Regions from separate parts of the Homo sapiens genome. Here region 1 is linked to region 2. A link means that fine-mapping ties the variant in region 2 to the expression of a gene that starts in the linked region. Tissue or cell type: whole blood. Region 2 holds a variant in brackets; the other region holds the start of a gene. All regions are shown on one strand. Distances are between the middles of the regions.

The links. PIP is the estimated chance that this variant, and not a neighbour inherited with it, causes the effect.
Region 1: it holds the start of DCTN2, and the variant in region 2 is fine-mapped to the expression of DCTN2 in whole blood (TOPMed, PIP above 0.99).

What each region holds. Positions count from the first base shown.
Region 1 is chr12:57,543,452-57,551,579 of GRCh38, reverse strand. It overlaps DCTN2 (dynactin subunit 2), which reads left to right and starts at 4,388. Exons shown (of 14, transcript NM_001261413.2): 1 at 4,388-4,552; 2 at 5,484-5,552. The coding sequence starts at 4,517. KIF5A (kinesin family member 5A) reads right to left here and starts at 1,536. Exons shown (of 29, transcript NM_004984.4): 1 at 1,180-1,536. The coding sequence starts at 1,308. RefSeq lists enhancers at 609-1,201, 4,120-4,259 and a silencer at 1,470-1,809.
Region 2 is chr12:57,503,941-57,511,940 of GRCh38, reverse strand. MARS1 (methionyl-tRNA synthetase 1) reads right to left here. Exons shown (of 21, transcript NM_004990.4): 11 at 7,642-7,716; 12 at 73-243. It also overlaps the pseudogene LOC124903093. Among named protein-coding and RNA genes, the nearest start is that of MIR6758, 4.7 kb to the left of the region's middle. The variant C/A (reference allele first, on the strand shown) is at 3,370.

The sequences.
Region 1 (8,128 bases), 40 kb before region 2:
CAGCACCCCTCAAGCCCTACAGGACTCGACCCCAGATCTTTTCTCCCCACACACAGCCTGAGGTCCCTACCAACCTCAGGGGGAGTGGGCAAGGCCTAGAATTTCCCTTTGGGCCATTACAGATAAAGGTGCAGAACAGAAACCTGGGTAGGCAATGTGATAGAAGAGATGGGAGGTTTGCAGTCACAGATTTAGGTTCAGATCCATGGATGAATAGCATGACCTTGAGAAAGTTATTCAAGTTCTTTGGGCCTCAATTTCTGCATCTGTAAAATGGAAATATTGATACTACTTCTGAATGTTGTTTTGGGGGTTAAATAATATACGTAGAGTAACAGGCCCACTGTTAATATTAGTTCCCTTAAGATATCCTCCTTGGGTAGGGCTGTCATGATGAGGTAGAGCTGGATGGCTACTTTCTATTGGATCCTCAAGAGAAAGGATGAATAAGCAGGTACTGACTAGGATCTCAGGGTTTGGGCATTTTTCTTTAGGGGGGTCAGTTGGGGAATCTGAAACCCTCTTCCTACTGTACCTGGGACCAAAAGGCAGACCTGACCTTAGGATTCCAGAGGCTCCCCCCAAGATTGGGTGTGGCATCAATGATTTCTTTCCCAGTAAACCCTGCATCAGACCTACTCCCCACAACACACACACAAAAATCCAGGCTATAACTACTTTAGGGAATGATGGAAGGTTTGGTCTTAGAGCCCACTTCCATCCACACTCTGCAGAGACCCTGGACTGCTCACCTCCCATCTAATCCACCCAAAAGTCTTCCGCCTTACCTTCCGGGAGGTGGGGGTAGAGATCTGAGCCAATAACAAAGGGAAGATGCGCTTTCTCTTGGGGAGCGGGTGGTGGAGAAGGGGAAAACATCAGAAAAACATGGGACTGGTTCTAACGGGTGGAGACGCTGCAGACAGCAGCAAAGGGGAGTTGGATCTCCCGAAGGTAGGAAAGCAGCCCCCTGCCACTCTGCAGAGACTCGGCCGCTGGCCTGGCCAGGCCACACCCAGCCATCCTGATGCAGGGGAGAGGAGGGGCTGCGGGGAAGAGGATGAAGGATGAGCGGCGGGGAGGGGGAGCAAAGGGACCAGCAGAGACTAAGGCTCTGCGGGGGGCGGGGAGATTCAGCCACCTGCCCCCTCCCCGAATTCCCTCCTGGGCGACACTCACCCCAATAACGACGCTGTCGTCCCCTTGGAAAATGGGGATGAACTTGTCTCCCCGCAGAATCTCAGCCTGGTTCAGGGGCCGGAATCGGCAGAGCACCTTGATGCTACATTCGTTGTTGGTCTCCGCCATGGTGGTAGCCGGCGTGGGGCTGGGACTCTTCTTGGGCTGCAGGGGTGGTGTGTGCTCCAGAGGAGAGGGCTCTCAGCAGAGGCCGAGGCGGAGGACAGGTGCTCAGTCTCTGGGGACAGAGTTGAGGGCGCCCGGGCGAAGCCTGGGGAGCAGGGCCGGGGCGCGCTGTCTCTCTCCTGCGGCAGCGGGATGCGGGCGACCTGGGCGTCTGGTCCTTTCGGGCTCTCTGCCTCTCCGCCCCTCGCGCTGCAGCGCCGCGCTGCGGGCCTGGGCGGGGCCGCGATGGAGGAGCGGGGGCGGGGCTCCCTCCACTGGGGACGCTGGCTCGACGTCGACCCCCGAAGGGTGGAACCTCACCGCTCCTCTCCTCCCTCCCCCACCCCTAACGTTCGGAGATAACCTTGCCCTCGACCCTTCCCCACCCAACTCACTGCATCCCACCCCTATACCCCCGACCTGTTTGTCCCTCCCTCAGACTCCACCCCCTGGAAGGGATAAGGGGACTGAGGTGGGCCTGTCGCCTGTGTAGCGAAAAGGGTCAACAGATCTCCCTCTCCCTTTATTCCAGGGCATCCCCCAACCCGTCACAGTCCTCTCTCCAAACTGGGATCACACTTCTCATTCTCCCCCTACGCCCATCCCATGCCCCACATGCACGGAAGCTGGACTCCCAACCCACTCAGCTTTCTGGGGGGACCCCTGCCTGTACTCCTATGAAGTTGGGTGTCGTGGGAGGTTCTGGCTACTCCCTTCCCCTTCCACATCCAAAGGTGCACTATACTGTCTCCCCAACGTACACACCAGGTCCCCAGTTTCAGGGAAGATAAACTCCCATTCTGGGTTATGGGAATTCAAAAGCAGATACAATACTTATTTTTGTGTCCTAGGCTGAGGATGGGAGGAAGATGGGTGGGAAACATCTTTGCAAGAGAAAGGGAGTCAGAAAGCAGTGAAGGAGGGGCAATGATGGGGATGGGTAAGGCCAGAGAGACTTTGAAGTCTGAGGCAAAGCCGGCATTTGGGTTTCAGGCAAATTCAGATACCTACGGGAGTGTGTGTTTTCTGTCTCAGTAACCATTGGAGGATAGAGTCCCAATACTTCAGCCCCCTTCCCTGGCCAAAAAAAAAAAGGTGTGGGGGAAGAAAAACGAAAGAAATGCCAAGCCCAGAGATTCCTTGTCCTTCCTTCCTTTGGGTCAGACTCCTGCTGCAGCCCCTGGAAAGAACCACCAAGAAGCTGGCCAAATTGATTTTTCTCCATGTCACAGGCCTCTGCTGGCCAACAGAGAGTTGGACTGCAGGAGTTGAGGTTCTAGGCAAAGAGGAAGGGCAGGGTGGATGGGAGAAGGAGGAGGAAAGGAAAGTTCTGCTCAGCAACTGTCTGGTGAGTGGTTAAGGTCACTTAAGACACTATGGGACAAAAGTAAGAGGCTGATAGCCTGGCCAGACAAGACCTAACTATTCAGAACTCAGGGGGTTTCCCACATTGGGGCTACACCTCTAACCTACCTTGAATCTTAAGGGAACTGAAAGAAAAGAGTCCAACATAAGGAATGGGACAGGAAAGCTGTAGGACTATGGAGAAAGGGATAGAGGCTTGGGGAGGAGCCAGGAGAAAGAAAGACAACGAGTTCCGAACTCAGGAACTCTCTAGTCACTTGGTTTGGCACAATTTCTAAGTGTTGCAGCATCCTGCAAGCTCAGGAAACATCCTGGGAAACATCCCATCCTTGGGTCCCCAGGGGCTCCAAGGTGGCATCTTTAGTAAAGGGGTTTCAAAATGCCAGTCCATGGAGGGTCACTGGTCAGAGACAAAAGTTCACTGAGTATGCCCTCACCTCCAAAAGAACAATGGTGAGTTTTTTTTTAATATAAAGATGGATTTGATAAGTTTCAAAGGACTATCTTTTATTCTGAGTGTGTCCTTCTTGCTTTTCTACCAAGTAATGATGGTGACAGTAAATAATAGGTTTTCTATTTGTAATATACTTACTTGATAAAATAAAAAGGCAAATCTTCAAGGTTTGTAGTTGTTTTAATTTTATTGAACGATGAAATTTAAAAGTCTGAGAACGGAAGGTAAGGTTGGTGAATAGGTACAAAAAATTAGAAAGTATAATAAGACCTACTATTTGATGGCACAATAGGGTGACTATAGTCAAGAATAACTCAACTGTACATTTTAAAATAACTTAAAGAGTAATTGGATTATTTGTAACTTAAAGGATAAATGCTTGAGAGGATGGATACCCTCTTCTCCATGATGTGCTTATTTCACATTGCATGCCTGTATCAAAATATCTCATGTGTCCCATAAATACATACACCTACTGTGTACCCACAAAATTGAAAAAATTGAAAAATAAATAAAAGTCTGAGAACTATTAACGAAGTAGTTAAGAGCCCAGAGAGTGTTCAGACAGACATGGAGACACCACTTACCTACTTATGAACTTCAGATAGAATTGCCAGATTTGAAAAACAAAAAACAAAAACAGGATGCCCAGTTAAATGTGAATTTCAGATACTTAATTTTTGGGGGGTTAGTATACCCACACACCACACACCACACACACACACCTACTTATTATCTGAAATTCAAATTATCTGAAAGCCCTTACTTGAGAAGATTGCCTAACTTTTTCATTCCTAACATACACTACGCGTTTACTAAATTTTACTTCTTGTTTTTATTTTGTTTTTATAATACACAGTATCAAGCAAACTTCTTGTTTTTGAAACCCCGGCTGTGTCACAGTATGACTACCTGTATCATTTAATCTAGTCATTTTATTCCTGGGAGCCCCAAACAGGAATTATAAATGTTCTTTCACTGACTTGCTGTAAAAGTGAGAGAAAAGGCTGTATGAAATAGCTCCCCAAGGTTCGTTATTGTCGCTCCCCGCCCAAGCTCCAGTACACCAAAACTACACATCCCACAATCCTAGGCGGCGTCCCCTGGCCATTACCTCATTCCCTGGCCTCGTTCTCCCCAATCCCGGCCTCTCCAGGGGTGTGGCAGCAGGGCTGTTCTCGCGACTTTTGCTTTACCCTTCTGCTGTGCTACTGCTGTCGCGAGACTTCCTGCTCATCTGCCGCTCCCTTTGCCGCCGCCTTAGCCCGGGACCCGAACCCAGCCTCTCCCCTACCCGAACACCGGCCCCGGCTCCACCGAGGCCCGGGTCCCCCAGCCCGTCTCGCCGCCGCCATGGCGGACCCTAAATACGCCGACCTTCCCGGCATTGTGAGTACAGGACCGGCCCCGGCTCCCCAGGACCGCGCCCCCGACCTCCCAAGGACCCCCAGCAGAAACCAGCCCGCGACCCCTCCCGCCTGCAGCCCATCCTCCGCCCAAGGGCTCCCGCCGCTCGTTCTCCGATCGGCCTCAGCACCCCCCGAACTCTTCTGACCCGACTGGGCCGGGCCGCCGGACGGCGCACCAGGCCCCCTTTCCGGCAGTCGCCGGTAGCTCGGCCCAGAAATCGACTCCGGGTACTGACCTCTTGTGCCTGAGTTTTTCCACCATCCGTGTCAACGCCTCCCATGTCCCCCCCAAATCTCTCCATAAGACCCCATCGCTACCCCAGACACACACACCAGACCACTTAACGATGGCCTTCATCCTGCCAAGGAAGAGGTTCTGCCATCTGGCAGAACCCTCTTGTGCCAGATGGGGAGCTCTATCCTTGAGGGAACCTATGCCCTCCCCCAGCCCCCACTCCCATGACAATCCTGGCGTGTACCTTCCTTTTGTGCTGCCCTGCCTGCTTCTCAAGGTGAGGGTTGGGACACAGGACCTTGAGTACTAAGGTCCTGAGTCACTCTCAATCCTTGTGCCAGGGTGGTGGTGTACGGGGCCTAATTGGAGGATAGCCTTCACCTTCTTTGGCAATAGTGATTGCCAAGGACCTGCCCGCCTCTAGATTTAGGGTAACATCGTTGCTATCACTTACACTCACCGTTTACTGTCAGGTCCCAATTGTTTCCGCTGTCATCCCTACCCCTTGAGACATGGGAACTGACATACTGTTGACTCACGGGGCAGGTGGAGGAGAAAGGACAGAACCCTGACATCACACCCCGCCTTCTCTGTTAGCTTATTCAAATGGAGTGGGGGAAGGGGTGTTGTTGGATGCTGGGTAGTGAGGTTGGGTGGTCACTGCTTCTACCTGCAGGCCAGGAATGAGCCAGATGTTTATGAAACTAGCGACCTACCTGAGGATGATCAAGCGGAGTTCGATGCGGTAAGAATGTGTGCTGCCACAGACTCCTCCGGACTCTGACCTTTCTCCCCTAGACAGGTCCTTCCCTTTCTCGGGGGAGCTACAGCAATAAGCGGGTATGCCAACCCCAGCCTGGGTGGTATATAGGTTGCAGGGCTTGCAAAGACCTTGCTGGGCTTGCAGCCACCAATGAGCAATGGCAGGAGGGAGAGTCAAGTCAGCGGAATTACAGCTAACAACATCTGTTTGCAAAGCCCTGATTCTTGGGCCTTTTAAATAAAATTGAAATATCTCAAAACAGGTTTGGAGCTAGTGACTTAGGCCCCTGGGTTCTAACCCATGGAAATGAATCATGAAGCCTGGGCACTTGTAATAAACTGCTACCAAGAACTAGACTTTGAAATATGGAGAAATACTTTTTCCATATGAATATCCAGTATCCATTGGGCAAGGAATTAAGAAAGTGATTCCAAGATTTTAGAGCAAAACAAATTTGAGGAAGAATGTAAATATTTCACATCAGCGGATGTGAGACTGTGGTTGCATTTTTAGATCCGAGAATTCTGAGGATGGAGTAATTAGGTACGGATACATTTTAACTGTGAGGGGAAACATTTAGTATGGTTTATTGAGTGTGTTCATTCTGTGGTTTTTTTTGTGCAATGCAGAGGAAGAAATGTCTCTGCCCCCAATGAGCCCCAGACTAATGGGGAATTAGGATACATATAGGAAACATATAGAAGGAAAAAAAAATTGAGTGAATGGAAATCAACATAGTAAAAACTCTGTTTAAGTGCCAAGAGGTGTGTTTATAGGATGTGTTTTAGGTTCTATTATTTCTGAAGACAGCTGGGCTGGGATCACATTGATGATGTGAGTTCTCAGTAAAGATGTGTCCAAGAGTCATTGCAATATGCAGGCTCAGTATGCTTGTCTGTAAGTCCTGTGGCTATGTCTGTGGGGCTGGTTAATTCTGGGGAATGCTGACTGCTGGCTTACAATGTGTGGCTTGGCGTACTCACTTATTTCTTATTTGACTCCCCCATGTGGAAGTGGTTCTTACATTGTGGGAAACACCTTCTCTGTCCCTTCTCCCAGTGGTGTGTTCCTTGTGGCTTCTGTATTTGCTGGCATGCCAATCTATCCCCTAAGCTTGAGTATCTTGGAGATAATGCAGATGATGTTGTTGCTCAAGGACCTGGGTGTGCACCTGTCACTCCAAGAGGCATCTTATAGGAAGCTGCCTCTGTCCTCACAGAATAGGAGTGTATACAATCGGTTCTCTGTATTTATGGGTTCCAAACCCATGGATTCAACCAATCACAAATGGAAAATATTTTTTAAAAATAAAAAATAGGCCCAGTGTGGTGATTCATGCCTGTAATCCCAGCACTTTGGGAGGCTGAGGCAGGTGGATCATTTGAGGCCAGGAGTTTGAGACCCCGTCTCTACTAAAAAATATAAAAATTAGCAAGGCGTGGTGGCGAGCGCTTATAGTCCCAGCTACTGTGGAGGCTGAGGCAGGAGAATTGCTTGAACCTGGGAGGTGGAGGTTGCAGTGAGCCGAGATTGCGCCACTGCACCCCAGCCTGGGTGACAGAGCAAGACTCCATCTCAAAAAAAAAAAAACCAGTACAACAATAAAAAAAAAAACAAAATTTAAAAATACAATATAACAACTATTTACATAGCATTTACATTGTACTAGGTATTTTAAGTAATCTAGAGATGATTCAAAGTATACAGGAGGGTGTAGGTAGGTTATATGCAGTTACTATGCCAATTTATATAGAAGATGGGAACATATGCAGATTTTGGTATCAAGGGAGGTCCTGGAACCAGTCTCCCACAGTTGCCAAGAGACAGCTGTATGCTGAGAACTTTACTGCACTACCACAGTTCAGACTGTTCAACTTAGGCCTAGGCTTCTGCCCTTCATGGTGAGATAATGAATAGAACTCAGTCCTTTTGTCGCTGTGATACAAACAGGTAGTTTCACAGTAATCCTCTTTCTAAACAAAAAAATACATATTGTCATTCCCTTTTGAAGATACTGGGATATCTCTTAATAAAAAGGAGATGACACCCATTCCAGGTGTGGAAGAACCTGACTGTGCAGCTCTGATTGGCTGTTTCTCCCCCAGAGCCTGAACAGCCTATTTTAGTAGCATCTAGTGGGGTGGCTGATGAGGAGAGGATACTGTGAGTGTTCATTTCCTGTGGCATGTTGCCCAGGATGCCAGTATAGAAGTGCATATGAGCTGAATGGCAAATACAAGAAGAGCTGAATTGTTTCTGTCACCTAAGGCTCAGCTAAGTGACTCTCTGTCACTAGGGAGGAATGGGGTGGGCAGACCTTCAGCCACTTCAGGGGCCCGAAGAGCCAAGATGTTTCCTGATGTCAGCTAATGTCTCTGGCCCCCGCATGTCCCTATGGGGCTTGCAGCTTTTGGGAAGTCAGCTGAGTAATGGCTCTGCCACTGCTTTTAATACTGACGTAAATATGCAATTTGAGGAGCAGTGAATTGTATGCTTAGATAATCTAGAAATGTCATGTCCGTGAGGCCTGGGATCTCACCAGCAGCCTGTCTGTTTCC
Region 2 (8,000 bases):
TCAGCAGTCTACTCTGCTAGCCCAGGGTTTCAACACTAAGGCTGAATGATATGAATAAAAAAGGGTTTTTACCTTGTCTTCAAAACCTTCTAAGGGTACAGGGGTTCCCCATTTGAGGTCTCGGGTTATGCAGCGTGGCTTGAGGCCATCCCGAAGCCAAGAACGGGTGATAAACTGGGCATTGGGTGTCCAGTCACTGCCAGGCAATGTCCTCCCCAACCACTCCTCCAGTCGCTTCTCCAGCTGAGATAACGGAGAAAGAGGGCTGATTTAGGAAAGTCTCATATATGGTTAGCATAAGGATAAACACATATAACCTTTTTGGAGCACAATTTGGCAATATATAACTTTTTTTTTGGAGACAGAGTCTTGCTCTGTTGCCCAGACTAGAGTGCAGTGGTGCAATCATAATCACAGCTCACTGCAGCCTAAACCTCCTGGGCTCAAGCAATCCTCCTACCTCAACCTCCCCAGTAGCTGGGACCACAGGTGCACACCACCATGCCAGACTGTAATTTTTGTAGAAACAGGGTTTTGCCACATTGCCCAGGCTGGTCTTGAACTCCTGAGCTCAAGCAATCTGCCCACCTCAGCCTCCAAAAGCGCTGAGACTACAGTTGTGAGCCACCCTGCCCAGCCTTAACTAGATTTTTAACACACAGCCAGGGGCAGTGGCTTGCGCCTGTAATCCCAGCTACTCCGAAGGCTGACGCAGGAGGATCACTTGAGGGCAGGAGTTCATGACCATCCTGGGCAACACAGCAAAATCCTGTCCCTAAAAAAAATTTTTTTTTTTTTAATTTTTAAAAATATGGAACACTTCACAAGTTTGCATGTCATTCTTGTGCAGAGGATGTGCTAATCTTGTCCATATCAGGGTCTCACTGTCACCCAGGCTGGAGTACAGTGGCACATCATGGCTCACTGCAGCCTCAACCTCCCAGGCTTAAGTGATCCTTCCACCTCAGCCTCCTGAGTAGCTGGCACTACAGGCACGTGCCACCACACCTGGTTAATTTTTGTATTTTTAGTAGAGATGGGTTTCACCAAGTTGCCCACCCTGGTCTCAAACTCCTGGGGTCAAGCAATTCTCCCGCCTCAGCCTCCCAAAGTGTTGGAAGTTGGAATTACAGGCATAAGCCACCGTGCCCAACCAATTTTTTCTTTTTTTAAATACAGACAGGGTCTTGCTTTGTTGCCCAGGCTACTCTCAAACTCCTGGCTTCCAGCGATCCTCCTGCCTCAGCCTCCCAAAGTGCTGGAATTACAGGCATGAACCACCATGGCCAGCTGAGGAAGTGCAAAAAAGAAAAAAAAAATTTTCTTTTTTTTTTTTAAGGTAGGGTGTCACTCTGTTGCCCAGGCTGGTCTTAAACTCCAAGGCTCAAGCAATCCTCCAGCCTTGGCCTCCCAAAGCATTGGGATTACAGGTGTAAACCAGCATGCCCAACCAAAAAAAAATTTTTTTGAGCTGGAGTCTTGCTCAGCTGCCCGGGCTGGAGTGCAGTGGCACGATCTCAGCTCACTGCAACCTCCCCACCTCCAGGTTCAAGCGATTCTCCTGCCTCAGCCTCCTGAGTAGCTGGGACTACAGGTCGGTGCCACCACGCCTGGCTAATTTTTGTATTTTTAGTAGAGATGGGGTTTCACCACGTTGGCCAGGATGGTCTCGGTCTATTGACCTCATGATCCGCCTGCCTTGGCCTCCCAAACTGCTGGGATTACAGGCGTGAGTCACCATGCCTAGTCAATTTTTTTTTAATCAGCCAGGCATGATAGTACACGCCTGTAGTCCCAACTACGCAGAAGGCTGAAGCAAAAGGATAACTTGAGCCCGAGAGTTTGAGAGTGCGGTGAGCTGTGATTGTGCCACTGCACTCCAGCCTGGGTGACAGAGTGAGACCCTGTCTCTAGAAAAAAATTTTGTTTGAACACACTTGGCTATATACCCTTAGTCTAGGGGAGGAATCAGGATTGCCAACAAATCCTAAACTCTTTTTAATAGGTTATTTTTTTTGTAGACGTACCAGCAAAGCAATTCTGAAATTGTTTTAGGTATATTGTAGGATTGAGCTAATAAGTAAATGTGCTGATGCCTATTGAGAACCAGGACACCTACAGTGGAAGAAGGTAGATAGAGACATGAAATAAATAAGAGAAAGTGACGAAGAACTCTGTGGGGATGGACTGAAATTGCAGGTGTCAGTGTGAACTTAAAATAAATACCAACTGGCCAGGCACGATGGCTCACGCCTGTAATCCCAGCACTTCGGGAGGCCAAGGCAGGCAGATCACCTGAGATCAGGAGTTGGAGACCAGCCTGGCCAACATGGTGAAACCCTGTCTCTACTAAAAATACAAAAAAAATTAGCTGGGTGTGGTGGCAGGTGCCTGTAATCCCAGCTACTCAGGAGGCTGAGGCAGGAGAATCGCTTGAATCCTGGAGATGGCAGTTGCAGTGAGCCAAGATAGTGCCACTGCACTCCAGCCTAGGTGACAGCAAGACCCTGTCTCAAAACAAACAAACAAACAACAAAAAACAAATACCAACTCTCTTTGATAAAAGGTCCTAGTAGCAAAGACACCCAGTAGCAATGAGCACATCTACCACCTAGATTTTGGTATCTAATACTGTTCCCTACTAAATTAAACTCAAGGTTGGTGACATGGTTGATTTCAAGGCTGAACCAGATGAACCTAGAGTATTTTTTTATGCCACAAATTAAGGAAGTGTTTAAAACATGATGGGAGATCTCAAAAGCAGACAAGCCACCTTGAATACGTTCCTACTGATGAAATAAGTAACAATTTGAACATGAAAATAAATTTAGGACAGGAAAGGATTATAAGAAATTGAAAAAAATAGGAATCCATGAGTCTATACTGATAATAAATAGTTAACTAAATTAAAAAATAAATGGAGGGAGAAGGATAAATATAGAGAGTAGTGGTAGAGTTGGAAAATCACCATAATAAAGATTGATTCAGGTAAGAATGATCAATGAATGCTACATTTATAGGGAATATTTTGTTCACGAAGAGCAAAGTATTGCATGGTCTTTAAAGTGTATTCCCTCAAGGCTGGGCGCAGTGGCTTACACCTGTAATCCCAGCACTTTGGGAGGCTAAGGCGGGTGAATCATTTGAGGTCAGAAGTTTGAGACCAGCCTGGCCAACATAGTGAAACCCCATCTCTATTAGAAATACAAAAATGCTCTCCCTCTACCCTCTACCCTCTACCTCTACCTCTACCTCTACCTCTCCCCACGGTCTCCCTCTCCCTCTCTTTCCACGGTCTCCCTCTGATGCCGAGCCGAAGCTGGACTGTACTGCCGCCATCTCTGCTCACTGCAACCTCCCTGCCTGATT[C/A]TCCTGCCTCAGCCTGCCGAGTGCCTGCGATTGCGGGCGCGTGCCGCCACGCCTGACTGGTTTTCGTATTTTTTTGGTAGAGACGGGGTTTCGCTGTGTTGGCCGGGCTGGTCTCCAGCTCCTAACCGCCAGTGATCCGCCAGCCTCGGCCTCCCGAGGTGCCGGGATTGCAGACGGAGTCTCGTTCACTCAGTGCTCAATGGTGCCCAGGCTGGAGTGCAGTGGTGTGATCTCGGCTCGCTACAACCTCCACCTCCCAGCTGCCTGCCTTGGCCTCCCAAAGTGCCGAGATTGCAGCCTCTGCCGTGCCGCCACCCAGTCTGGGAAGTGAGGAGCATCTCTGCCTGGCCACCCATCGTCTGGGATGTGAGGAGCCCCTCTGCCTGGCTGCCCAGTCTGGAAAGTGAGGAGTGTCTCTGCCCGGCCGCCATCCCATCTAGGAAGTGAGGAGCGCCTCTTCCCAGCTGCCATCCCATCTAGGAAGTGAGGAGTGTCTCTGCCCGGCTGCCCATCGTCTGAGATGTGGGGAGCGCCTCTGCCCCGCCGCCCTTTCTGGGATGTAAGGAGCGCCTCTGCCCGGCCGCCGCGTCTGAGAAGTGAGGAGACCCTCCGCCCGGCAGCCGCCCCATCTGAGAAGTGAGGAGCCCCTCCGCCCGGCAGCCGCCCCGTCTGAGAAGTGAGGAGCCCCTCCGCCCGGCAGCTACCCCGTCTGGGAAGTGAGGAGCGTCTCCGCCCGGCAGCCACCCCGTCCGGGAGGGAGGTGGGGGTCAGCCTCCGCCCGGCCAGCCGCCCCGTCCGGGAGGGAGGTGGGGGGTCAGCCCCCGCCCGGCCAGCCGCCCCGTCCGGGAGGGAGGTGGGGGGCCAGACCCCCGCCCGGCCAGCCGTCCCGTCCGGGAGGGAGGTGGGGGGCCAGACCCCCGCCCGGCCAGCCGCCCCGTCCGGGAGGGAGGTGGGGGGCCAGACCCCCGCCCGGCCAGCCGCCCCGTCCGGGAGGTGAGGGGCGCCTCTGCCCGGCCGCCCCTACTGGGAAGTGAGGAGCCCCTCTGCCCGGCCAGCCGCCCCATGCAGGAGGGAGGTGGGGGGGGGGTCAGCCCCCCGCCCGGCCAGCCGCCCCGTCCGGGAGGTGAGGGGCGCCTCTGCCCGGCCACCCCTACTGGGAAGTGAGGAGCCCCTCTGCCTGGCCACCACCCCGTCTGGGAGGTGTACCCAACAGCTCATTGAGAACGGGCCATGATGACAATGGCGGTTTTGTGGAATAGAAAGGGGGGAAAGGTGGGGAAAAGATTGAGAAATCGGATGGTTGCCGTGTCTGTGTAGAAAGAGGTAGACATGGGAGACTTTTCATTTTGTTCTGTACTAAGAAAAATTCTTCTGCCTTGGGATGCTGTTGATCTATAACCTTACCCCCAACCCTGTGCTCTCTGAAACATGTGCTGTGTCCACTCAGGGTTAAATGGATTAAGGGCGGTGCAAGATGTGCTTTGTTAAACAGATGCTTGAAGGCAGCATGCTCGTTAAGAGTCATCACCACTCCCTAATCTCAAGTACCCAGGGACACAAACACTGCGGAAGGCCGCAGGGTCCTCTGCCTAGGAAAACCAGAGACCTTTGTTCACTTGTTTATCTGCTGACCTTCCCTCCACTATTGTCCTATGACCCTGCCAAATCCCCCTCTGCGAGAAACACCCAAGAATGGTCAATTAAAAAAAAAAAAAAAAAAAGACAAAAATTAGCCAGGCATGGTGGTATGTGCCTGTAATCCCAGCTACTCGAAGGCTGAGACAGGAGAATCACTTGAACCTGGGAGGTGGAGGTTGCAGTGAGCTGAAATCACAACACTGCACTACAGTCTGGGCAACAGAGCGGGACTCCATCTCAAGAAAAGAAAAAAATAAAGTGTATTCCCAGACTGCTCATAAGTTGCAATGGGGAAAATATTAATCACACAGTGAACAAATTGAATAACACCTGACCAAACAAAATTAAGATTCCCAGTGAAGGGGATGGCCATCACGTGGCTCTGAAAAGGACACAATGTCATTTATGTAGTATTCCAACCAAGAATGCATAGCCTGAAATCATGAGGAAACACCCAACAAACCCAACCTGAGGACTATTATATTTTATGTATTTATTTATTTTTGAGACAGGGTCTCACTTTGCTGCCCAGACTGGAATGCAGTGGTACAATCATGGCTCACTATAGCTTCCAGCTCCTGGGCTCAAAGCAACCCTCCTACCTTAGCCTCCCAAGTAGCTGGGGCCAGAGATGTGCACCACCACATTTGGCTAATTTTTTCTTTTTTTCTTTTTGATACAGAGTCTCAGTCTGTCACCCAAGCTGCAGTGCAATGGTTCAATCATGGCTCACTGCAGCCTCAAACCTTCCCAGGTTCAGGTGATCTTCCCACCTCAGCCTCCTGAGTAGCTGGGACTACAGCTGCTCACAACTCACCCAGTTAACTTCTGTATTTTTTGTAGAGATGGGGTCTCACCATGTTGCCCAGGCTGGTCTCAAAGTCCTAGGCTCAAGTCATCGGCCCACCTAGGTAGCCCTTGCAAAATGTTAGGATTAACGCGTGAGCCACTGCACCCAGGCCAGGTTAATTGTTTCACTGTTTGTAGAGTCAGGGTCTTGCCATGTTGCTCAGGCTGGTCTCAAACCCCTAGGCTCAAGCAATCCTCCCACCTCAGCCTCCCAAAGTAATGGAATTACAGGAGTGAGTCACTGCATGTGGCCTTTAATTTTTTTATGCTTTAGAGATAGAGTCTCACTCTGTTGCCCAGGCTGGAGTATAGTGGCACAATCACAGCTCACTGTAACCTCAAACTCCTGGGCTCAAATGATCCTCCCACCTCAGCCTCTTGCATAGCTGAGACTACAGGATCGCACCACCATACCCGGCTAATTTTTCAATTATGTTGTAAAGACAGTGTCTCACTATGTTTTCCAGGCTGGTCTCCAACTCCTGGCATCAAGAGATCCTCCCACCTCAGCCTCCTAAAGTGCTAGGATTACAGGCATGATAAGCCACTGCGCCCAGCCTATTTTTTTTTTTCTCCAAGCCCAGGGTACAGAAGGAGGAACACTGTATTTTAAAAAGGAGGTCAGGCTGGGATGGTGGCTCACACCTGTAATCCCTGCACACTGGGAGGCCGAGGTGGATGGATTACCTGAGGTCAGGAGTTCGAGACCAGCCTGGCCAACATGGTGAAACCCCATCTCTACTAAAAATACAAAAATTAGCCAGGCATGGTGGCAGGCACCTGTAACCCCAGCTACTTGGGAGGCTGATGCAGAGGAATCGCTTGAACCTGGGAGGCAGAGGTTGCAGTGAGCCGAGACCGTGCCATTGCACTCCAGTGTGGGCAACAAGAGAGAAGCTCCATCTCAAAAAAAAAAAAAACAAATCAGGAGGTCAATGCTGGACACAGTTGCTCATGCCTCTAATCCCAACACGTTTGCAGGCAGAGGCAGGAGAACTGCTTGAGCCCAAGAGTTTGACACCAGCCTGGGTAACACAGTGAGAACCCATCTCTACAAAAGCATTTTAAAAATTAGTCAGGTGGCCCAGTGCGGTGGCTCACACCTGTAATCCCAGCACTTTGGGAGGCTGAGCCAGGCAGATCATCTGAGGTCAGGAGTTCGAGACCAGCCTGGTCAACATGGCAAAACCCTGTCTCTACTAAAAATACAAAAATTAGCCGGGCATGGTGGCAGACGCCTGTAATCCCAGCTATTCTGGAGGCTGACGCAGGAGAATCACTTGAACCCAGGAGGCGAAGGTTGCAGTGAGCCAAGAGTGCGCCATTGCACACCAGCCTGGGCGACAAGAGCGAAACTCTGTCTCAAAAAAAAAAAAAAAAAAAAAAAAATCAGTCAGGCATGGTACTTGGGAGGCTGAGGTGAGAGGATTGCTTGGTCCTAGGATATCAAGGCTGCAGTGAGCTATGATCATGCCACTGCATTCCAGCTTAGGTGACAGAGTGAGAAGCTATCCCTTAAAAAAAAAGAGAGACATAAAAATACTTTTATATGCATATGACATTTCTGAATAGACACAAAGGAAAAAGTAGTAAATACCTCTCGCAAGTGGGCCTGGGGCTTTCACTTTGTGCCCTTTAATCTATTTCATCTCTTGACAATAGTATGTACAATTCTTAATGGAAATTTAAAACTTTTAAGAGTAATCTGCTCTCAGTATTTGTGGCTAAGGCAGAGGGGACAGAAGAGGCCTCCTGAAAACTAGGTTGAGAGAAAAGCTCACTTACCTTAGGCAGGTCCAGAAACAGGTGCTGGCTCGACTGCACCACAGGGCATGATCGGCAGACTTTACACTGAGGCTTCTGCGAAGGAAAATTCCAGAGGACAGATCAGGCCTGCAGGCCAGGGGAGGGGTCCAGGCAAGGGGAGGAGCAGAGAAGGATTAGCTCCTCAGTCTGCCATCTAGTTTAGCTTCAGGCTCACACTCCAATAACTCTACTATGTGGCCTACTCTAAACATGGAGACTCAAATCTTCTCAGTATAACTCCATTTGTTCTCAGAGTTTCAGATCTCTGTCCCATCACACCAGAGTAAAAAAAACATTCTCTGAACATAGGCTAGGTACAGAGCACTGCACTGTACTTG